2 separate regions of the Homo sapiens genome follow, and region 2 is linked to region 1. A link means that fine-mapping ties the variant in region 1 to the plasma level of a protein whose gene starts in the linked region. Region 1 holds a variant in brackets. A gene starts in the other region. All regions are shown on their forward strands. Region 1 holds the start of LOC124902212 (a long non-coding RNA gene). Region 2 holds the start of DDC (dopa decarboxylase).

Evidence for each region. A credible set is the group of variants that fine-mapping cannot tell apart. PIP is the chance, under the fine-mapping model, that this variant and not a neighbour inherited with it causes the effect. Protein levels are from antibody-based Olink assays in UK Biobank. Linkage for the fine-mapping came from a reference panel and not from the study's own genotypes, which makes the PIPs less certain.
Region 2: it holds the start of DDC, and the variant in region 1 is the best candidate, but not a certain one, in a credible set for the plasma level of the DDC protein (UK Biobank, PIP 0.56).

The regions. Positions count from the first base shown.
Region 1 is chr9:93,121,936-93,133,499 of GRCh38, forward strand. It overlaps NINJ1 (ninjurin 1), which reads right to left. Exons shown (of 4, transcript NM_004148.4): 2 at 4,475-4,703; 3 at 2,964-3,127; 4 at 1-295. The coding sequence ends at 2,973. It overlaps LOC124902212 (a long non-coding RNA gene), which reads left to right and starts at 11,077. Exons shown (of 3, transcript XR_007061665.1): 1 at 11,077-11,564. RefSeq lists a silencer at 2,979-3,143 and enhancers at 4,748-5,399, 6,157-6,216, 8,843-9,441, 9,442-10,039, 11,521-11,564. The variant G/A (reference allele first, on the strand shown) is at 10,747.
Region 2 is chr7:50,564,368-50,576,103 of GRCh38, forward strand. DDC (dopa decarboxylase) reads right to left here and starts at 1,038. Exons shown (of 15, transcript NM_001082971.2): 1 at 918-1,038. RefSeq lists an enhancer at 5,901-6,426.

The DNA.
Region 1 (11,564 bases):
CTGGGCACAGGTCTCTGCAGCTGTCCAGTTCTGACCCTCTGGGCTATTGTGGCCAGCCCCCATGTGCCAGGAGGGAGCTGCCTCCTGGGAACAGCTGCTGAGAGACAAGAGTGGCCTCCTGCGTGGTGCTTGGCCGCAGTCAGAGCAAGGGCTGGTCCGGGGACATGGTGCAGATGAGGCCAGCCTGGGCTCTGGCAGTCTGGGTAGTGCCATGTGCAGGGAGGTGGACACCTCACAGGTATGGCGACTCCTGGGGTCGGGCAGCTGAGTTGCAGGGCAGGCAACATCCAGGGTCCTGGAAAGGAGACAGAGGAGAGGCTCTGAGCCTGGAAGGAGGGAGAGGAGAGGCTCTGAGCCTGGAAGGAGGGAGAGGAGAGGGTCTGAGCCTGGAAGGAGGGAGAGGAGAGGGTCTGAGCCTGGAAGGAGGGAGAGGAGAGGGTCTGAGCCTGGAAGGAGGAAGAGGAGAGGGTCTGAGCCTGGGAAGGGGGGAGAGGAGAGGCTCTGAGCCTGGAAGGAGGGAGAGGAGAGGCTCTGAGCCTGGAAGGAGGGAGAGGAGAGGCTCTGAGCCAGGCTGTGACAAGCCCCGAGTGTCAGGGCCATTTGCACACCCGGACTCAGGAAGGAGAAGAGCCTGATTCTGACATGAGAGGTGTCAAAGTACTCCATGCCTCAGTTTCCCCTCTGAAAATGGAATGAATATAGCATGGCTGGGTTACTGCCAGGACTTAGAGGCCTGGCCCAGCATGGGGGGCTCGGGTTGGGCAGCTGTGACCATAGCCACCCACGAAGCCTGAGACCTCTCTGACTGCTCCACGCAGGACACACAGCAGCTTTGGCCTCCGAGCCTCTGAGGACAGCTTTAAGGTCCACTGCTGGGTCCCCACGTGGCCCACAGACGCAGCACCCTCTTCCCGGCAGGCAGATAACTCATGCTTGGGAGAGTTAGGGACTGCATTCAGCACACACAGCAGGTGATTAATAAATGGCCTGGCCACATGCCCAAGCCAGGGAGCAGCTGACATCTAGGTGTTCTGGAAGAGGACAACTTAACTACAAACTGGAGGCAGCATCTGGACAGTGACTCGGACCCCACATGGGGCCGCCCAGATCCAGGTCCTTTCAGGAGGGTGACTTCAGGCTCCACGGCCGGGACATTGGGGGCTGGCGTGATCCCACTGGGGGAATGGCCTTGGGTGTGGTAGGGGAGCTTGAGAGGCCATGGGCCACTACGAGCAGCGGTCACTCGTTGGCCCCCGTGTGGGGAGGGGTGAGGCCAGGTGGATGCAGGGTGCTCCCAACCCAGCTGCTGGCCCCAGCGCCCCACCTCATCCTCACTATGCCCTCTTGGGGAATTTTTTTTTTTTCCCGAGATGGAGTCTCATACTGTTGCCCAGGCTGGAGTGCAATGGCGTGATCTCAGTTCACTGCAATCTCCACCTTCCAGGTTCAAGCGATTCTCCTGCCTCACCCTCCTGAGTAGCTGGGATTACAGGCATGCGCCATCACGCCTGGCTAATTTTGTATTTTTAGCAGAGACACGGTATCTCCATGTTGGTCAGGCTGGTCTCAAGCTCCCGACCTCAGGTGATCCGCTTGCCTCAGCCACCCAAAGTGCTGGGATTACAGGTGTGAGCCACCGTGCCTGGCCTGGGGAAATTTTTATATATCCTTGACACACAGGCGCTCTGCCCCAAGAGCACTGCTCCTGTCTACTCTGCCATGGGCCACCACTGGTGGAGAGATGGCCACCTGCCAGGAGTGCCCACCCCTCCCTTAGCAACTCACCTCCACCTCTGCTACAAACCGGAGGGGTGACCCCTAGGCCTAAGGTCGCGGGGACTGTGGTGTGTGGCCCTGGCCTGGCTGCATGGACTGTAGTGTGTGCACCATGTGGCCCTGGCCATGGCTGCATCCCAGGCCTTCCTGTGGATCCTGCTCCCAGGCTGTGTCACTGGGCAGACGCTCACCCTCTCTGAGCAAGGACACAGGGAGAGGCTGTATGTGGTGTGAGAAGTCTTCCTACACTGGGTGCCTCGTCCTGTAGAGACAGCCTCAGTCTGCATCCTGCACACAGCCAGGGTCCAGCCTAAGGCAGGCAGCTAACAGATTCTGCGAGGCCCGGCAAGGGGCAGACTTGAAGAGTCACAAGGGCTCCACGTGACAAGATCCTGAATCCCACCGTCCTGGTCAGAGTGGCACAGTGAGGTGGGCATGTCAGGCAGGCGGTCATACCAAGGTCCCTTTTTCTCAGACGAGGGCTGGGAGGAAGCTTCACCTGCTAAGTGGAGCTGATAAGGGGTGCAGAGCCCCTGACTTATCAAGAGAAGCCGGAAATCTTTGGGTTTTGGGTGTTTTTTGAGACAGAGTCTCACTCTGTCGCTCAGGCTGGAGTGCAGTAGTACGATCTTAGCTCACTGCAACCTCTGCCTCCTGGGTTCAAGCGATTCTCCTGCCTCAGCCTCCTGAGTAGCTGGGACTACAGGGATGTGCCACCATGCCTGGCCACTTTTTGTATTTTTAGTAGAGACGGGGTTTCACCCTGTTGGCGAGGCTGGTCTCGAACTCCTGACCTCAAGTGATCTGCCCGCCTCAGCCTCCCAAAGTGCTGGGATTACCGGCATGAGCCACCGCGCCTGACCCAGAAATCTTTTTTTTTTTATCGGACAGACATTCTGAATGTATAGAAATCTTACGTTTAAGTGAGTTCTCCAGGATGTTCAAATGGTGGCTCCTACACACATTCCATCTAAACACTGTGACCACAGGACCCCAGGTGGCCAGCACCAGTGGCAGGGCTGGCCTCAAGGCAGTGGCCAGGCATTGGCCTTGTAGGTGTGGACGAGGATGCCCATGGCCTAGGAAGGTGTCCAAGGCTGGCCGGCCAGGGACTCACCACACTGCAAGAGCCTCCAACAGCGAGCAACCCCAGGACTGCAGGCCTCGCGCCCCATCTCCCAGCTCACCTGGGTGTCCTACTGCTGGGGTGCCATGTCCATCAAGGGCTTCTGGACCCCGAAGGCCGTGATGAAGATGTTGACTACCACGATGATGAACACCAGGCCCGTGGCCAGGTTGTTGAGGAAGTCCAGCTTGGCGTGCTTGGCCGGGTTGTTAAGGTCGTACTTGACTGTGGGCGAGAGAGGAGTGGATGGTGCCAAGGGCAGCCCAGACGCAGCGCCCCAGCCTGGGACAGTGGAAGGGGACCCACCCCAGCGGTCAAGCTGTCCTGGGACATTACAGGGCTCTCAGTCGCATTTAGGATGAGTTTTGTCGCCCAGAGAAAAATACATCTGTTTTGCTGAAACATGGACAACAGCGCCCCTGGCTTGGGCAACCCCACGGTCTATGACCCCACCTTCTGTAGCCCCCATATTTTCCTTATACGAATTGAAGCTATGGACGTCAACCAAAGGCCAGGTTTGGGCAAATGCACTGAGCCCTTTGCGTGCCTTAATCTAGTGATTCCTGCCACAAGCTGCAGTTCTATTATGATGCCTGTTTTATAAGTGAGGCCCGGGAGGTTCAGCCACTTGCCCAAGGTTACGCAGCCATGAAGGGGACCCTGGGCCCAGAAGGTAGGACTGGCATGACTGAGGCCATCTCATGGCATGGGTCAACAAGAACCCGGTGAAACACCTGCCCTAATGCCCACAGGCCAGGCCCTGACCCCACTCTGTGCTCTTTCAAAGTGCAGGGTGGGGCCAGGCACAGTGGTTCATACCTGTAATCCCAGCACTTTGGGAGGCCGAGACAGGAGGATCACGTGAGCCCAGGAGTTTGAGACCAGCCTGGGCAGCATAGCAAGACCCCGTGTCTACCAAAAATAAAAAAATTAGCTGGCATGATGGCATATAGCTGTGGTCCAGCCTACCTGGGAGGCTGAGGCAGAAGGCTCGCTTGAGCCTGGGAGGTTGAGACTGCAGTGAGCTGTGATCAAGACACAGCAAGACCCGGTTTCAAAAACAAAACAAAACAAAACAAAACAAGGCTGAGCGTGGTGACTCATGCCTGTAATCCCAGTATTTTGGGAGACTGAGGCTGTTGGATCACTTGAGCTCAAAAATTCGACTGGGCAACATGGCGTAACCTCATCTCTACAAAAAATACAAAAATTAGCCGGGCATGGTGATGAGCGCCTGTAATCCCAGTTACTTTGGGGGCTGAGGTGGGAGGATCGCTTGAGCCCAGGAGATGCAGCTTGCAGTGAGCCGAGACTGCGCCACTGCATTCCAGCCTGGGTGACAGAGGGGGACCTTGTTTCAAAAAACAAAACAAAACAAAACAAAAACCAAAGTGCAGGGTGGGGGGAGGGGGGGTGCCACTTCCTGGACTGCATGTCTGGGTGATGAGGGCCAGGAACTCGGCAGCTCCTTGAGAGCCAAGTGTGCAAGGTGGTGGGCACCTGTCCCAGGCGATGCGAGCAGATGCCAGCAAGGTGAGCAGGTGGCCTGGCTGCCCCCACCTGGGGACCTACCAAGGAAGATGAGCAGCACCCCCACGCCGATCTGCAGCACAAGGGAGATGGAGATGAGGACCACCAGGGGCACATAGAAGGCGAAGCTGGGGCCCTGTTCCACGACGGCCTTCAGCTGGGACGCGTTGGCCATCAGCAGCGCGATGTCCAGCATGCTCTCGGCTGCGCTCTTCTTGCTGGCGTAATGGTTCACGTTGATGGGCCCGTGCCTCCAGCCCCAGCGGGCCGGCTGCAGGGAGGGGAATGGTCAGCAAGGCGGGTGGGGGAGGGGGGCAAGGGCTGTGCCTGAGTCGGGCTCTGGGGGTCACCGGGCCCTGCAGGTGAGGGCTTCCCTTGCCCCCACCCCTGGTAAGTGCTCAGACAGAAGTGCTTATTACCCTAAGGAGAGGCTGCGAGCATGTGCTCAGCCTTTATAAAACCTCCCCTAGGAATACGGTCCTGGAGAGAAAGGAAACGACATAGCAACCTTAGCACACGCACTCTGATTTTCCACTGGAAAGCATTGCCCGATCCTCCCACTCCTGCCATAGGCGGGGCTGCTCCTCCCTGCCTGCCCCTACCGGTCTGTGCCCCCGGCCTCCTCTCCCCCTCCCCTCAGAGTCTGAGCTCCTGATGCCAGGAAAGGAAGTGACGTGTGGGCGGACAGATCTGTGCACACCGGCCCAGGCAAGAAGCAAGTCCTCCTGGGCCGGACCTAAGGGCAGAGATCGCCCCTGCCACCTCCCAACCTCCCAGCCTTGGGGCCCAACAGGCCACTCGCCTCCAGGCCTCAGCACAGGCCTTGCAGAACTATTCGGCCATTAGCAGCAAGACTTCACTGAGGTGGGCCACCCAGAGCCCGGCCCCGACACAGCAGAGGCTCAACAGATGCCTCAGCATACGACATACAGTGGAGCTTAGCTTCCACATTACTTCCCAGAGTAATAAAATGGGAATGCGAGTTCTGATGGAATCCTCTTTGCCTTAGGGGCCTATCTGGTCAGGGCCCCCTGCAGTTCTCTCGAAGCCCCCAATGCCTTTCCCTGGTGCCAGACACTCTCAAGCTCCAAGGCCCCACACAGAGGCCACTGCTTCCAGGAAGCCTCCCAGGACTTCCCCTGGCAGGACATGGCCCTCTCTCCTGCCACAGGAAGGTCCTCTCTAGGGCTGGCCCTTCATTCCAAGCTAAGTACCAAACTTCCTCTTTCTCTGGAGCAAGAGTCTGCCCCTCTCAAGCTGCCCTGGTGGGGCCCTCTTCAGTCACTCAGGACAAACCTGCCAGCCCCTTGGCCCGGCCCTTTGTCCACAGGCGCCCCTGAGTTGCCAGGCCCTAGACCACAGCCTCCCAGGACTGGTCACCTGCTTGGAGGCAGCTGTGAGAACCCACTGCTGGCAGCCAACCTCCTGGGGCCCTCTCTGGGAGATCCTGTTTCCAGACTCATGAAAGATGCAGGCCGGGAGGCCGGGGTGCCGCAGGGCCACAGGGAGGGGCGGACATGGTATCCATCCAGGCCTCGACTTTCTGCAGGCTGGAAAAATACACGAGGCAGCCAATACAGAACCAGCAGAGGGCAGGGGCCTTGCTTTCATGCTGCGTGTTTTTCAGTTTCATCTAAAATTATGTGCCCAGGAGGAAGAGAGTGGGCGTCAGGGGACACTGGTGGGCTCTGCTGCTTACACCTGGGCCTGGGAATTCCAACAACCTGCCTTCAGCATCAGCTGCTCTCTAAGTAGCAAGTTCACGTGGACACATGTGCGCACAGGGACAGCCGCCTTTACCTGGGCCACCCAGCAGCGCTGTCCCTGGGGCCCTGGTGTGCTCTCGGGTCACTCCATGCATACCCCGAAGCCTCTATGGGGTGTCTACTTTGCCTCTCCCACCCTGGGCCTGACGCTGCACTCCCTGGGATTCCCCCAGGCCCCAGCACAGCCAGGGCACTCACCAAGTGAGAGGCTGTGTTCCTCTCCCATTCTACAGACCAGCAGATTGCAGCTTGGAGGAGGTTTGCCCAGAGCCACCTCCCAGGACTGTGTGTCCCTGTCCCACCACTGTCCACTTAGGGGCTTCCTCCCAGGCTGCCCAGGGTCTGGGTGAGGACAGCCCGGACACAAGGGCCTGTGCCTGGCACTGAGGTCGTCTCCAGTTCTGCTCTTGCGAAGCTGCCCAGTGGGCCACACCCCATCACACGTGTGCTCCGCAAGGTGCAGTGTCCCAGGGGCTGCTGGCCACAGTGGGCATGTGCTCCTAAGTTTCACAAACCTCAAGTGCCAAAGTGCCTTCCTTCAAGGCCACCCTTATGCTCATTCGGGTCTCCATCCCAGGACTTGGTGCTGGGAGAAGGCCAAGTGCAGACCCCGTGAGGATTTCCACCTTCTGGGGGCATCTACACATATATGTGCGTGTTCCTAGTCACAAAAGCACAGAAACACACATCCCCCAGAAAGACACACATAGACGTGAGACACACATGTGCACACAATACGCACACACAAATACACATGCACATACATACATATGCACACGTACATAAACAGACACACAAGCCCAGGCTAACTGTGTTGGCCTCTGGGCAGGAGGAAGAATTCCCTTTTTTTCTGAGCTCTGCAGAACCATTTAAATATTTCACAGCCATGCAGTCACGAGGAACACTCAGATCCATTAAAAAGCACCATCCGCGCAGAGCCTCCAGCTCCCCAAGCCTCAGCTCTCAGCACCCCCAGCCACGAGGAGCCTGTGCCCCTGCTGTCCTCATGCCCACTTAAGGTGGGTAAACTGAAGCCCAGCAAAGGCGGTTCCTTACCCAAAGCCACATAGCAAGTGAGGGCTTGGCTAGGATTTGAACCCAGGCCCCGGGGCTCAGAAGCTCTGGTAGCTGATGCCATTGTCCCTTAGGGGCTGAACTCTCAATGGCTCCCTGCTTCAGGCTCCAGCTGTGTCCGGACAACTAGCCCCACTTTGTGCCTCAGTCTTCCATGTGTACCACGAGGCTGTGGAGCAGATGCCCCAGGATGGCCTCTGAGCCCCGAGTGGCCAGCAAATGCCCTGACCATGCACCCCTGCTGGTGAAGGGCACTTCCAGCCCATCCGGCCATCTGCTTCCTGTCCAACCTGCAGCTAGGGAAGCTTCTGCATGCAGGTCAAGCCCTGGCTCACCACAGCCCAGCCCGTGGCCCTGACGCAAGCTCCCCCTCCGTTGGCCTCAGTCTCCCCCTCCGTATATCTAGGGTTGCACCTGGGAAACTCCTGCTTACCAAGGGAGAGGCTGTGTTCCTCTCCCATTCTACAGACCAGCAGATTGCAGCTCAGAGGAGGTTTTCCCAGAGCCATCTCCCAGGACTGTGTGTCCCAAAGCATAGGGCTGCCCCAGGATACAGCATAGCTGGCAACCACCCCAGGCAGCAGGCCACATTGGGAGCATCATGTGGAGGGGAGGGCAGCAGGGACAGTCTGCTTCCCTGTCCCTAACCTTGGTACTCTGGGCCTTGGAGCCCTGAGCTGACCACCACACAGGAGGGTCCCAGGGAGGACGATCCCACTCTCCCCCAGTCCTGGGCACTTGCCTCTATCTTGGGATGGGCCTGAGGGTGGCCGGGGGACCCAGCTACCACAGGTGAGGGAGCCCTGTGGTCCTGACCAGCCAGCAGGAGCTGCCAGGAGCTAAGCCCTGCTGAGACCAGTGCCCATGGCTTGGGCAGGGCAGGGAATAAACACCCTGGTTAATAGATTCCCAGAACCTCAGCAGCACTCGGGGCCTGGGGCCAGGCCAGATATATTTCCTCTGAAAGCTAGGAGGGAGGCTTGGTGAGGAGGTCAGCTCTGTGTAGGGGCGTGGCTGGCTCCTCATGCAACCTTCTGTGGACGGTCGGCCTCCCCACTGCAGGCTGCACATGTTGGGGCTGGGCCACACGGTCGGTCCTAGGGCCACTTCAGTGAGCATCCTCAGCTCAGGCAGGAGGGGCTGGCACAGAAGTGGGATATGAACCAGGCTTGCTGCATCCACCGGCCTGGCTCTGGCCATAGCATAATGGGTGTTCTGGCTCACCCAGGGCTTGGATGGGAGGAGACAGGGTCGGGGCTGTGGGCCCACAAATGTGGTGATGCATATCAGTCGCCCTTTCCAGGGGCCTGTGAGGAGTAGGGCTGGAAGCTGCCACAGCACCTCCTTTACCCCCCGAGTCCTGCCTCAACACTGACCACTCTATGCCTCAGTTTCCTCATTTGTAAAATGGGTAGACAAGGATGTGGAGGGGACTGAATGGGGTGGTCTCAGATGCCCCGTGGCTGGTGGAGCGCATGGCAGTGGGTGGCAGGGCTGTTTTCCTTGATGCCTGGCTCTCACTGTTTTGAAAGACTCTGCCTCCCCGACCAACTCCACTGACTCAAAAGCAGCTGAACAGGCTCACAAAACAGTCACACAGCAAAGAAAGGACAGCCTGGGGCACAGGTTCTCCTGTGCTGAGCAGGACCCAGGGGGACAACAGGGACGAGGTGCCTGCCCTGGGTGCCTGGGGGGTCCCAGTCTACACCTTGGCTGCTCGCAGCCTGTCCTGCTCACTGGCCCTAACCCTTGGACTCAGCAGGCATTGGCAGATGGTGGGGCGACCTGAAAATCAGGCACCCCTCTTCTACCCCACCATATGCTAGGACCTGCCTGGGGCTTCCGGCATCCCTTGTCTGACCCACCAGTGTGGGCATGAGCTGCTGTGCCCATTCCCCAGATGCCACACAGACAGGCAGGGCCTGGCACTGGAGCCCTGCACCGTCTCCTACCGGCCAGCCCAGGAAGCAGGCCCTGAGAGGGTCTCCCAGCTCCATGTCTGTGTTCCTGGCAGGAAACCCCAGCAAGACAGCAGGAAGTGCTGGAAGGCGGGGTTCCCACCACAGCTGGGCCAGGCAGACCCACTTCCCGCGGACTCAGCACTGGCCACGAGTGGCCCTGAGACCATGTTAGGGTTGCCTTTTAGAACTTGGCCCAGACCCTGCCGGCCTCAGGATCTGCCAGGAAAGCGGAAATGAGGAAACGAGCAAACCTCCTCCTGGGCAGCTGAGGCCATGCACGGCCCAGACGGCAGGTATACAGGGCACAGCTACCTACCTCCAAGGACCATGCCTCTCGGCCCAGATGTGGCCCCAGGAACCTTCAACCTGCGGGCTGTGAGGGGCAGGAAGGTGTGGCTGGCACCAGATGGCCGTGTCCTAACCCCATCCCCACCACCTCCCTGCCTTGAGACACCCTGGGGATAACAGATTCAGGCCATTTTCACATTAACATTGTTGTTTACTATTCCTTCTGCTGACAGCCACAAGTGAGCTGACTCAATCCCTGGACACTGATGGGGGCCCTCACATGAAGGGCCACAGGGGCGCAGGGCACACGGGGTAGGGGAGACCTGAGAGCTTCCCACGGCCGTGGCCCAACAGAGCCCACCCAGGTTGGAGTTCCACGTGTGGCTCCTCCCTGAGCCTTGTCCACCCTGGGAGGTGAGCAGTTGTGCCCCATTTTACAGAAAAGGAAACTGAGACTCTCCATTTTACAGAAAAGGAAACTGAGGGAGCTGGGCAAAGCGCTGCCCTCTCCAAACCACTGCCAGGGGTCACCAGTGGGAGAGGGTCTCCGTGGCAGGCAGAAGGATGAGGGCGCTGAGTGCTGGCCTGGCTCTAAGCACTTCATATACATCAGCTACTGAGTCCTCACCACTCTCTATGGCAGGCACCGCGACCACACCCATTTCACAGATGAGAAACTGAGGCACAGAGTGCTGACATGATGTGCCCAAGAAACGGAGAAGCAAGGTCTTGAGGTTGGGAAGAGGAACAGGTGTGTTGGGTGGTCCTGGGCCCCCAGGCTGGGTGAGCAGAGCGGCCCTCGAAGTTTTCTACCCCTCAAGGGGAAATGTGCTCATCCTCACACTGGCTCATAGCCTTTCCACAGCTCCCTGGACACCAGACCGTGATCAGGCCTGCAAGGCCCCTCCCATCGGCCTGGCTTCCCATCCCCCCACCTCCTACCTGGCCCTCATGTGCTCTGTGGTCCAGCCTCTGAGCCTTTGCTCCCACTGTTCCCTCTGCCTAGATGCCCTTCCACACATCTCAGAGAGCCAGATCTGCTCACCCACCTTCCCTGCCCTCCAGGGCTCAGAGCCAATGTCCCCACCTCCACAGAAAGCCTTCCCTGACCACCATGCCCCGCCCCCCACGATGGGCTCCCAGCCCCCAGGGAACCCCCTGCTTTGCCCTGGCCTCTCCTGCCCTGTCTGGGCTGGGCTGCTCTCCAACCGCGGCTTGGTGGGGC[G/A]GGGCTGTGTCTCTCTCCCTCTGGTGCCCAGAGCCAAGACAGTGATCCGGGAACAAATCCAACCCAATCTCCTCTGGGCTTGAGATGCACCCATCTCAGGAGGCACAGCCTATCCTGCCGCCCGCAGAAGTGAGCAGAGACTGCTCTGAGTGGAGGGCATTGCCCGGGCAAGGTCAGGGTTGGGGGAGGAGCAGTATCCCTTCCTTTCCAAGGCGCTTCCAAGCCACTGACCTGTTTATTACCTGACTTGCTTTCCCCACTTCCCTGAAGGCAGGAGAGACCCTTTGTTCTCTCTTTATAAGACCATGTCTAAAAGGCCCAGCGAGGTGTGGCAACTTCCCAAGGACACACAGCCGGAGGAGCCCCCTGCCTATTGCTCCAAAGTGCTCACACACTGGGGCAGGGCCAGGTCGCTGGGGTCCCGCACACCGGTCAAGTCCTGCAGTGCGACAGCTCCTCTCTAACCTAGGAACAAGTGTCCATGCAGCCCCAGGGCCATCCTATCCCGTGGCTCATGGGGCCCCGCCTCCCCGAACATGTCCTGTCCCCACAGCACCGGCCTAGGACTGTTCACCAGCGAGTGGGCAGAGTGTCTTTGCCCCAGTCTGGTCCACGCCATGGAGAGGCCTGGAAAAACCCAACAGGCTGCTGTTCCCTGCCCCCATCCCTGAGGGGGTTAGAAAAGGAAAGAATGTTCAAAGTAAACAAGTCACCAGAGGGCCATGCCAGGACCTTGCAACAAACACAAGGTGCTCAGTAAGTGCTGAGTCCTGGGATGAAGAATTCTGAAGCGGGACCACTACCAGGGCCTGCCCCCT
Region 2 (11,736 bases), not on the chromosome of region 1:
TACATTCACATTTCGTCTCTGCCAGCTGCAAGATCTTATGCCATCCTCCTCCCCTCCTCTGGCTGTTTGCTCACTTGTGAAATGGGGATGTGACTGGAGGTGAAGAAGGCAAACCTTCTAGACAGAGCCCAATGTAAACTGACCACTCAGAAGTAATGGTTTTAACTCACGCATGATGGAGAGCAATGATTTCCATCGATTAAGCTTTGATTCTTATATACTTCCGACAACAGACTTAAAACCAGGAGAACTTCGACTCCTTGAAGTCGATAACCGAACAATTCTCCCAATAGAAATTCCTATCCGCATATGTTTTCAGATGGGAATTGTACTCAGCATGGCAAGTTGGTGGGAAAGATCTTCTAATTCTCCTCAAATCACACTGCATAGGTAGACACCAAATTGACCTCTAAGTAAACTATAACATACACCAAAAGGAGAGAGCCCTGACGGAGCCTCAGATGTTATAAAGGGAAGGGCAGAGTTCACATTTACTAATCACCTCCATAAAATCATGGGATTTAATCCTCACAAGGTAGATACTAAGAAAATCCTCATTTACAGAAGAAACAGAGGCTGGGGGAATAAAATACCCAACACCATCCCTGGTGGTGCATGGAAAAAATAGAATCACATCTGGCCCGCATTTGCTACTGAGCCAGTCATGAAATCATTCCCAGCACCTATCAAACATGTGTCACTGGAGTGACTGTGTGTGCATGGAGAGCCACCAAGTGCACAGCCCCCACTGAACAAAAACCCCTGCCAGCCTGCAGCAGAAGAGAAAGCACCACACAAGCTCCCTCAAGTGAGTTAACCTTTAAGCAAATGTTCAGTAACATGGGGCCAGAGAGTCAAGGTACATGTTGCTGTTTTCCACTACTACAATCTGAGTAGGTATAAAATCAGAGACTTACATGCTGGAAATTCGAATTCCTTACAGGGCTACTCTCCTTGATGGGATTCTCCAACTTTGGGGACTGAAGAGCATGTGGAGAAGCTGCTGAGGCACTCGGCACTGAGACAGTCACTCTTCTTGAAACTCCAAGCCACACGTTTCCCTCTTCTTGCATTTCCAGCCACATGTGCCAGTTAAACATTAATTCCTGATGGTGACAAAGGTCAAGGAAATCTTGAGAAATAGCTCGCCTCTGGGAATCCTGAGAGCACATTCTGAAGAGACTGTTTCATTCCAAATCCTGGAAGCTTGGATCTTTCTTATGTAATTCTACATACATCCCATCTTTTACTAAGCAGCCCTGATTTCAAGTTTGGAGCCCATTAAGTCATCTGATATGTTCCAGCCCTGCACCAGGTGATGCCTGCATTGCACACAGCCTCCTGCCCCTGAAGGCAGCCCCAAAGTAAGCCTGCACTTCCCGGTGCAGCACTCAGCAATATGGGTAAGATTTCCAGGTTCAGATATCAGCAGAACCCAGGAACTCACCTTCCTTCCCCAAACCCATCAAAATCATAGTTGAGATGCATGAAACAATACTCTGAGTGGAATTTGGACAAATTTATAAAAAAACCCCAAAGTCGATAGAATTTTATGAGAGCACAAAGCAGGGCTGAGAAAGCCACATTGAGAAGTTGAGCAGGCACAGCCTGCAGGGATCTTAGGAGCTGGTCTTTCTGGCAGACCCCCAGCAGCTCCAAGCGTGGGGCTCAGTGGGTGTGAAGAGCAGAGTGAGAGTGAGGCTGGCTGCGGGCAGCTCATTAAAGGACTGGAAACAAGGCAGAGAGGGCTGTCACTAGAGCCATTTGTCACAGGCTAGATGCAGGGAAGAGCTCTCCTTGCTCTATCCTAGGGGACTGGAGCAGGCTGGGGCGGGGCACCTAGGGTTCCTATTGTTAGGACTGGAACTGGAGAGAGAAGCAGAGTGACATTGAGGAGTCTCAAAACCTCCACAGGAGCCATTGGAGGAAAGAGGGAAAAGAGAAAGAATGGCAAGTGAGCCCTCCAATGACGCACACCCAAATGCTCCCGCCTGGGGTCTCACAGGAGCTGAGAACCGAAGAAGTGATTGTCCTTGGTAAGGGGAAGAGTGAGGGAAGGGCTCCAAAGAGGGAACAGCCTCTGCAAAGTTACTGAGGATCAAGCTCGGCATCTCCCAGGCCCTGACAGAAGGCCAACTCCTAAGGACCATTCAAAGTAGGGGAGGGGGAGTCTTGCAAGCCACGTTACGTAATTTGTATCCCCCCAACTGTAATAGAAGGCATTGAAGTGTTTCTAGAAAGCAGTAACCTTAGCTTACTTATGGTTTAAGATCACTCTGGCTCTGGGGTAGAAAATGGATCAGAGGGAGATAAGGGTGAAAGGGTTAGACCCTTTAAGTTGGACCACCAATTCCCACCACATTCCTTGGATTTCTGCACTTTCCTGCAAACCAGGAGTGAATTCAAGTGAATCCATTCTAGGAGATGGGCTGGGGGAGGGAGGGGGGGCTTGAGATGAAGAAGCGTGCTAATATTCCCCATAAGTGCGTGTGTGTGTGTGCATGTTAGGAGGTTGCTGGACAAGGGGAGGAGTCAAGGGGATGGAACGACTACCCAGTGATGAAGCCAGTGGGCAGGGGATGACGGTCATAGACTGAGAGGAAGAAGACTGGGGTGGACCAGTATTGGGTGTGGGGAGGTGAAGGACACCAAGGATTCAGTTTGGGAATTAAATTTCAGATATCCACAAATCGTGTGATTTGAGATGTCCAGTACAGCTCAGAAAAAGAGGCCCAGACAGGAAATAAAGTTATGGGTTGAAAGTGTTTAGATGATATTTGAAGCAATAGGACTGGAAAAAAAACATCCATAGAGAAGAGAGACCTCAGTTTTGAAATCCTCAAAAAAGTGAACTAGTAGTGTCCAACTACTGAGCAACAGTTATCTCTCAATAGAGAAATCTACATAGGAATCAGCATCCGTTCCCAGAAGGGACTCTTTTTACATTTCCTTTCTTCTTGCAGGTGTGGGATTTATGGGGAATAGGGGTGAGGCTTCGAGGACCAAAGAAAGAAATCTAGGGCAGGATTTCCCAACCATGGCACTTTATCAGTCAGGTTTCTCCAGAAAACTGGAAATAATAGGATATGGATATAGGAATATAAGAAGAGATTTATTGTAGAAATTGGCTCATGTGATTATGGAGGCTGGGAAGTCCCACAGTCTTCCATCTACAGGCCGGAGAACTAGATAAGCTGGTGGTGTAATTCATCCTGAGTTTGAAGGCCCAAGAGCAGGAGAAGATGGATATCCCAGCTCAAGAAGAGAAAGAATTTGCCCTTCATCCACCTTTTTGTTCTATTCTGGCACTCAACAAACTGGATGTTACCAGCCCACACTGGTGAGGATGGATCTTGTTTACTTTCTGGAGATTCCAATGCCAATCTCTTCCAGAAACACCCTCATGAACACAACCAGAAATCCTGCTTTACTGGCCCTCTGGGCATCTCTTAGCCCACTTCAGTCGACACATAACATTAACCATCCCAGCACTATTACATTAAGGGTGTATAATTCTCTGTGATGGGAGCTGTCCTGTGCATTATAGAATGTTTAGCAGCATCCGGCTTTTACTCATTAGGTGCCAGTAGTCCCCAGTTGTGACAACCAAGAATGTCTCCAGGCATTGCATGTTTCCTGGTGGCAAAATTGCCCCTGGTTGAGAAAGGCTGATCTCGTGTGACCTTGTAATGCCCCAGGGCAGGGGAAGGTAGCATGGGTTGCAGCCAAGGCTGTTCCTGGAAGAGGGTGAGTCTGCTCTTCCACAGGAGCAGCAACGGCCATCTCTCATGATGCCAGAGTGGCCTGCAGTCAGTCGCAACAGTGTGCATGTTGCAGGAGGGAGACTGCAGGTGCAGACGTGACTGTGAAAGAGATTCACAGTGCACCTGAGTGTGGCTCCTGGGAGCAGAAGAGACGGGGCTTCCTGCTGAGACCACTGTGTGCCAGAGCAAAGTGGGCACTGGGGGCTTTGCTGAGGCCATGGGTGAAGAGAGAGGAGCTCTACTGCTATGCCCACACTCTGGCCAAGCCCACAGACAGGAGTGTCAGGGGAACTGAGTTTTCCTGGAAAAGCCAATTTGTTTAGGAGCTGGTGAGAATATCAATTCTGTTTTCTTTTCTTCCAGCGTAGAAGTTTTTTATTTTAATGAAGTCCAATTCATCAGTCCTTTTCCTCCATAGATTGTATTTAATGGAGGAAACTGGTGATTTATCTAAAAGGTCATCATCAAACTAAACTAGATTTTCTCTTGTGTCATCCTCTAGGAGTTTTATAGTTTTGCATGTTACCTTTAAGTCTATGAACCATTTTGAGTAAAGGTCTAGATCTAGATTCTTTTTTTTTTTTTGCATGTGGACGTCCATTTATTCCACAACCATTTGTCAAAGAGCCTATCCTTTCTTCATTGTATTGCCTTCACTCCTTTGTCAAAGACCATTTCACCATATTTGTGTGGGTCTATTTCTGAGCTCTCTATTCTGTTCCATTCATCTGTCTATTCTTTTACCAATAGCACTTTCTTAACTACTGTAGCTTTGTAGTAAGTCTTTTATTCATTTACTTATTAATTTACTTACTTATTTGAGACACAGTCTCGCTCTGTTGCCCAGGCTGGAGTGCAGTGGCGCTATCTCGGTGCACTGCAACCTCCACTTCCTAGGTTCAAGCAATTTTTGTGCCTCAGCCTCCCGAGTAGCTGAGATTACAGGCATGTACCACCACGCCTGGCTAATTTTTGTATTTTTAGTAGAGATGGGGTTTCACCATGTTGCCAGGCTGGTCTTGAACTCCTTACCTCAAATGATCCACCTACCTCGGCCTCCCGAAGTGCTGGGATTACAGGCGTGAGCCACTGCGCCTGGCTGTAGTAAGTCTTTAAGTTGGGCAGTGTCAGTCCTCCAAGTTTGTTTTTCTCTCAAAAGTCTCAAATCATTGGCCTCAGACTATTGGTGGGTCATGGAATGGGTTTTGCAGGTCTCATGACCAGCATTTTAAAAAATGCAATAGAACAGAATAAAATATAAAACAGGAGACATTGCACCTAATGATGAAAATATTGCTTTCTGAACCTTTCAATGATGTACAGGAATATGTGTACTGGGTCATAATATAGAATGCATTTCTTACTGTAGGTTGTGATCAGACTGCAAAGGCCTCTATCAAGAGATGATCTCATTCTATAAAAATAAAGTGGGTCGAGATTTGTGAAATCTGAAAGTGAGGATTAATCAATGACTACAAAAAGCTAGACAAGGCAACTCATGGACAACTAGCTATGCCTATGTTTTCTATGTAATTTTAAAAATTACATTGAAATGTTCCATAGTCATGTATAGTTTTTCTTCTGTGAATTTCCTGCTTCCGTTTCTCATATGCCTTCTAGCCAGGTAGTGAAAAAGACTCAGCTTTTCAGGGGGACAGCCTAGTGCAATTTGGAATTAGGTTTCTCTGTTTAATTGACTTGTCTTTAGTGTGCCAGACCAGTCAAAGAATCCTGCATCAAAATCGAGAGAATGAACAAGCCTTCATCACCATAGCACATTTATATAAAAAGAAAGGGAAAGATGTTGTGGGAAGTCAGGGACCCCGAACGGAGGGACCTGCTGAAGCCGTGACAGAAGAACATAAATTGGGAAGATTTCATGGACATTTATCACCTCCCCAATCACTACTCTTATAATTTCCTATGCCTATCTTCACTTTAATCTCTTAACCCTGTCATCTTTGTAAGCTGAGGATATATGTTGCCTCCGGACCCTGTGATGATTGCATTAACTGCACACACTGATCGTAAAGCATGTGTGTTTGAACAATATGAAATCTGGGCACCTTGAAAAAAGAACAGGATAACAGCAATGTTCGGGAACAAGGGAGATAACCATTAGGTCTGACTGCCTGGGAGCCAGGCAGGACGGAGCCATATTTCTCTTATTACCGAAAATGGGTAAGAGAAATATCACTGAATTCTTTCCCTGGTAAGGAATATTGATAATTAACAGCCCTGGGAAAAGAATGCATTCCCAGGGGGGCCTCTAAAATGGCTGCTCTGGGGGGGTTGTCTGCTTTATGCAGTTGCAGATAAGGGATGAAACATGCCCTGGCCTCCTGCAGTGCCCCTAGGCTTGCTAGGATTAGGAAATTCCAGCCTGGCGAATTCTAGTCAGACCAGTTCTCTGCTCTTGAACCCTGTTAAGATGTTTATCAATGACAATGCATGCACAGTGGGACATGGAACTTCACTAGTAATTCTAGTTTCTCCCTGACCTTGTGATCTCGCCTTGACCTTCTGCCTTGTGATCTTTTATTGCCCTATGAAGCATGTGATTTTTGTGACCCACACCCTATTCGTACACTCCCTCTCCTTTGAAAATTGCTAATAAAAACTTGCTGGTTTTACGGCTCAGGGGGCATCATGGAACCTGCCGACATGTGATGTCGCTTCCGGACACCCAGCTTTAAAATGTCTCTCTTTTTTTTTTATTATACTTTAAGTTTTAGGGTACCCATGCACAACGTGCAGGTTAGTTACATATGTATACATGTGCCATGTTGGTTTGCTGCACCCAGTAACTCGTCATTTAACATTAGGTGTATCTCCAAATGCTATCCCTCCCCACTCTCCCCACCCCACAACAGGCCCCGGTGTGTGATGTTCACCTTCCTGTGTCCATGTGTTCTCATTTTTCAATTCCCACCTGTGAGTGAGAACATGCGGTGTTTGGTTTTTTGTCCTTGAGATAGTTTGCTGAGAATGATGGTTTCCAGCTTCATCCATGTCCCTACAAAGGACATTAACTCATCATTTTTTATGGCTGCATAATATTCCATGGTGTATATGAGCCACATTTTCTTAATCCAGTCTATCATTGTTGGACATTTGGGTTGGTTCCAAGTCTTTGCTATTGTGAATAGTGATGCAATAAACATACATGTGCATGTGTCTTTATAGCAGCATGATTTATAATCCTTTGGGTATATACCCAGTAATGGGATTGCTGGGTCAAACGGTATTTCTAGTTCTAGATCCCTGATGAATCGCCACACTGACTTCCACAATGGTTGAACTAGTTTACAGTCCCACCAACAGTGTAAAAGTTTTCCTATTTCTCCATATTCTCTCCAGCACCTGTTGTTTCCTGGCTTTTTAATGATCGCCATTCTAACTGGTGTGAGATGGTATCTCACTGTGGTTTTGATTTGCATTTCTCTGATGGCCAGTGATGATGAGCATTTTTTCATGTGTTTTTTGGCTGCATAAATGTCTTCTTTTGAGAAGTGTCTGTTCATATCCTTCGCCTTCTTGTTGATGGGGTTGTTTGTTTTTTTCTTGTAAATTTATTTGGGTTCATTGTAGATTCTGGATATTAGCCCTTTGTCAGATGTGTAGATTGCAAAAATTTTCTCCCATTCTGTAGGTTGCCTGTTCACTCTGATAGTAGTTTCTTTCACTGTGCAGAAGCTCTTTAATTTAATTAGATCCCATTTGTCAATTTTGGCTTTTGTTGCCATTGCTTTTGGTGTTTTAGACATGAAGTCCTTGCCCATGCCTATGTTCTGAATGGTATTGCCTAGGTTTTCTTCTAGGGTTTTTATGGTTTTAGGTCTAATGTTTAAGTCTGTAATCCATCTTGAATTAATTTTTGTATAAGTGTAAGGAAGGGATCCAGTTTCAGCTTTCTACATATGGCTAGCCAGTTTTCCCAGCACCATTTATTAAATAGGGAATCCTTTCCCCATTTCTTGTTTTTGTCAGGTTTGTCAAAGATCAGATGGTTGTAGATATGTGGCATTATTTCTGAGGGCTCTGATCTGTTTCATTGGTCTATATCTCTGTTTTGGTATCAGTACCATGCTGTTTTGGTTACTGTAGCCTTGTAGTATAGTTTGAAGTCAGGTAGCATGATGCCTCCAGCTTTGTTCTTTTGGCTTAGGATTGACTTGGCAATGCGGGCTCTTTTTTGGTTCCATATGAACTTTAAAGTAGTTTTTTCCAATTCTGTGAAGAAAGTCATTGGTAGCTTGATGGGGTTGGCACTGAATCTATAAATTACCTTGGGCAGTATGGCCATTTTCACGATATTGATTCTTCCTACCCATGAGCATGGAATGTTCTTCCATTTCTTTGTATCCTCTTTTATTTCATTGAGCAGTGGTTTGTAGTTCTCCTTGAAGAGGTCCTTCACATCCCTTATAAGTTGGATTCCTAGGTATTTTATTGTCTTTGAAGCAATTGTGAATGGGAGTTCACTCATGATTTGGCTCTCTGTCTGCTATTGGTGTATAAGAATGCTTGTGATTTTTGCACATTGATTTTGTATCCTGAGATTTTGCTGAAATTGCCTATCAGCTTAAGAAGATTTTGGGCTGAGACGATGGGGTTTTCTAGATATACAATCATGTCATCTGCAAACAGGGACAATTTGACTTCCTCTTTTCCTAATTGAATACCCTTTATTTCCTTCTCCTGCCTGATTGCCCTGGCCAGAACTTCCAACATTATGTTGAATAGGAGTGGTGAGAGAGGGCATCCCTGTCTTGTGCCAGTTTTCAAAGGGAATGCTTCCAGTTTTTGCCCATTCAGTATGATATTGGCTGTGGGTTTGTCATAGATAGCTCTTATTGTTTTGAGATACATCCCATCAATACCTAATTTATTGAGAGTTTTTAGCATAAAGCGTTGTTGAATTTTGTCAAAGGCCTTTTCTGCATCTATTGAGATAATCATATGGTTTTTGTCATTGGTTCTGTTTATATGCTGGATTATGCTTATTGATTTCCATATGTTGAACCAGCCTTGCATCCCAGGGATGAAGCCCACTTGATCATGGTGGATAAGCTTTTTGATGTGCTGCTGGATTCAGTTTGCCAGTATTTTATTGAGGATTTTTGCATCTATGTTCATCAGGGATATTGGTCTGAAATTCTCTTTTTTTGTTGTGTCTCTGCCAGGCTTTGGTATCAGGATGATGCTGGCCTCATAAAATGAGTTAGGGAGGATTCCCTCTTTTTCTATTGATGGGAATAGTTTCAGAAGGAATGGTACCAGCTCCTCCTTTTACCTCTGGTAGAATTTGGCTGTGAATCCATCTGGTCCTGGACTTTTTTTGGTTGGTAAGCTATTAATTATTGCCTCAATATCAGAGCCTGTTATTGGTCTACTCAGAGATTCAACTTCTTCCTGATTTAGTCTTGGGAGGGTGTATGTGCCGAGGAATTTATCCATTTCTTCTAGATTTTCTAGTTTATTTGCATAGAGGTGTTTATAGTATTCTCTGATGGTAGTTTGTATTTCTGTGGGATCGGTGGTGATACCCCTTTATCATTTTTTATTGCATCTATTTGATTCTTCTCTCTTTTCTCCTTTATTAGTCTTGCTAGCAGTCTATCAAGTTTGTTGATCTTTTCAAAAAACCAGCTCCTGGATTCACTGATTTTTTGAAGGGTTTTTTGTGTCTCTATTTCCTTCAGTTCTGCTCTGATCTTAGTTATTTCTTGCCTTCTGCTAGCTTTTGAATGTGTTTGCTCTTGCTTCTCTAGTTCTTTTAATTGTGATGTTAGGGTGTCAATTTTAAATCTTTCCTGCTTTCTCTTGTGGGCATTTAGTGCTATTAATTTCCCTCTACACACTGCTTTGAATGTGTTCCAGAGATTCTGGTATGCTGTGTCTTTGTTCTCGTTGCTTTCAAAGAACATCTTTATTTCTGCCTTCATTTCGTTATGTACCCAGTAGTCATTCAGGAGCAGGTTGTTCAGTTTCCATGTAATTGAGCAGTTTTGAGTGAGTTTCTTAATCCTGAGTTCTAGTTTGATTGCACTGTGGTCCGAGAGACAGTTTGTTATAATTTCTGTTCTTTTACGTTTGCTGAGGAGTGCTTTACTTCCAACTATGTGGTCAATTTTGGAATAAGTGCACTGTGGTGCTGAGAAGAATGTATATTCTGTTGATTTGGGATGAAGAGTTCTGTAGATGTCTATTAGTTCCACTTGGTGCAGAGCTGAGTTCAATTCCTGGATATCCTTGTTAACTTTCTGTCTCGTTGATCTGTCTAATGTTGACAGTGGGGTGTTAAATTCTCCCATTATTATTGTGTGGGAGTCTAAGTCTCTTTGTAGGTCTCTAAGGACTTGCTTTATGAATCTGGGTGCTCCTGTATTGGGTGCATATATGTTTAGGATACTTAGCTCTTCTTGTTGAATTGATCCCTTTACCATTATGTAATGGCCTTCTTTGTCTCTTTTGATCTTTGTTGGTTTAAAGTCTGTTTTATCTGAGACTAGGATTGCAACCCCTGCCTTTTTTTGTTTTCCATTTGCTTGTTAGATCTTCCTCCATCCCTTTATTTTGAGCCTATGTGTGTCTCTGGACGTGAGATGGGTTTCCTGAATATAGCACACTGATGGGTCTTGACTCTTTATCCAATTTGCCAGTCTGTGTCTTTTAATTGGAGCATTTAGCCCATTTACATTTAAGGTTAATATTATTATGTGTGAATTTGATCCTGTCACTATGATATTAGCTGGTTATTTTGCTCATTAGCTGATGCAGTTTCTTCCTAGCCTCGATGGTCTTTACAATTTGGCATGTTTTTGCAGTGGCTGGTATTGGTTATTCCTTTCCATGTTTAGTGCTTCCTTCAGCAGCTCTTGTAGGGCAGGCCTGGTGGTGACAAAATCTCTCAGTATTTGCTTGTCTGTAAAGGATTTTATTTCCCCTTCACTTACAAAGTGCAGTTTGGCTGGATATGAAATTCTGGGTTGAAAATTCTTTTCTTTAAGGATGTTGAATATTGGCCCCCACTTTCTTCTGGCTTGTAGAGTTCCTGCCGAGAGATCAGCTGTTAGTCTGATGGGCTTCCCTTTGTGGGTAACCCGACTTTTCTCTCTGGCTGCCCTTAACATTTTTTCCTTCGTTTCAACTTTGGTGAATCTGACAATTATGTGTCTTGGAGTTGCTCTTCTCGAGGAGTATCTTTGTGGTTTTCCCTGTATTTCCTGAATTTGAATGTTGGCCTGCCTTGCTAGAGTGGGGAAGTTCTCCTGGATAATATCCTGCAGAGTGTTTTCCAACTTGGTTCCATTCTCCCTGTCACTTTCAGGTACACCAATCAGACGTAGATTTGGTCTTTTCACATAGTCCCATATTTCTTGGAGGCTTTGTTTGTTTCTTTTTATTCTTTTAACTCTAAACTTCCCTTCTCATTTCATTTCATTCATTTGATCTTCCATCACTGATACCCTTTCTTCCGGTTGATCAAATTGGCTACTTAGGCTTGTGCATTCATCATGTAGTTCTCGTGCCATGGTTTTCAGCTCCATCAGGTCCTTTAAGGACTTCTCTGCATTGGTTATTCTAGTTAGCCATTTGTCTAATTTTTCTTCAAGGTTTTTAACTTCTTTTCCATGGGTTCGAACTTCCTCCTTTAGCTTGGAGTAGTTTGATCGTCTGAAGCCTTCTTCTCTCAACTCGTCAAAGTCATTCTCCGTCCAGCTTTGTTCCATTGCTGGTGAGGAGCTGCGTTCCTTTGGAGGAGGAGAGGCACTCTGATTTTTAGAGTTTCCAGTTTTTCTGCTCTGTTTTTTCCCCATCTTTGTGGTTTTATCTACCTTTGGTCTTTGATGATGGTGACATACAGATGGGGTTTTGGTGTGGATGTCCTTTCTGTTTGTTAGTTTTCCTTCTAACAGTCAGGACCCTCAGCTGCAGGTCTGTTGGAGTTTGCTGGAGGTCCACTCCA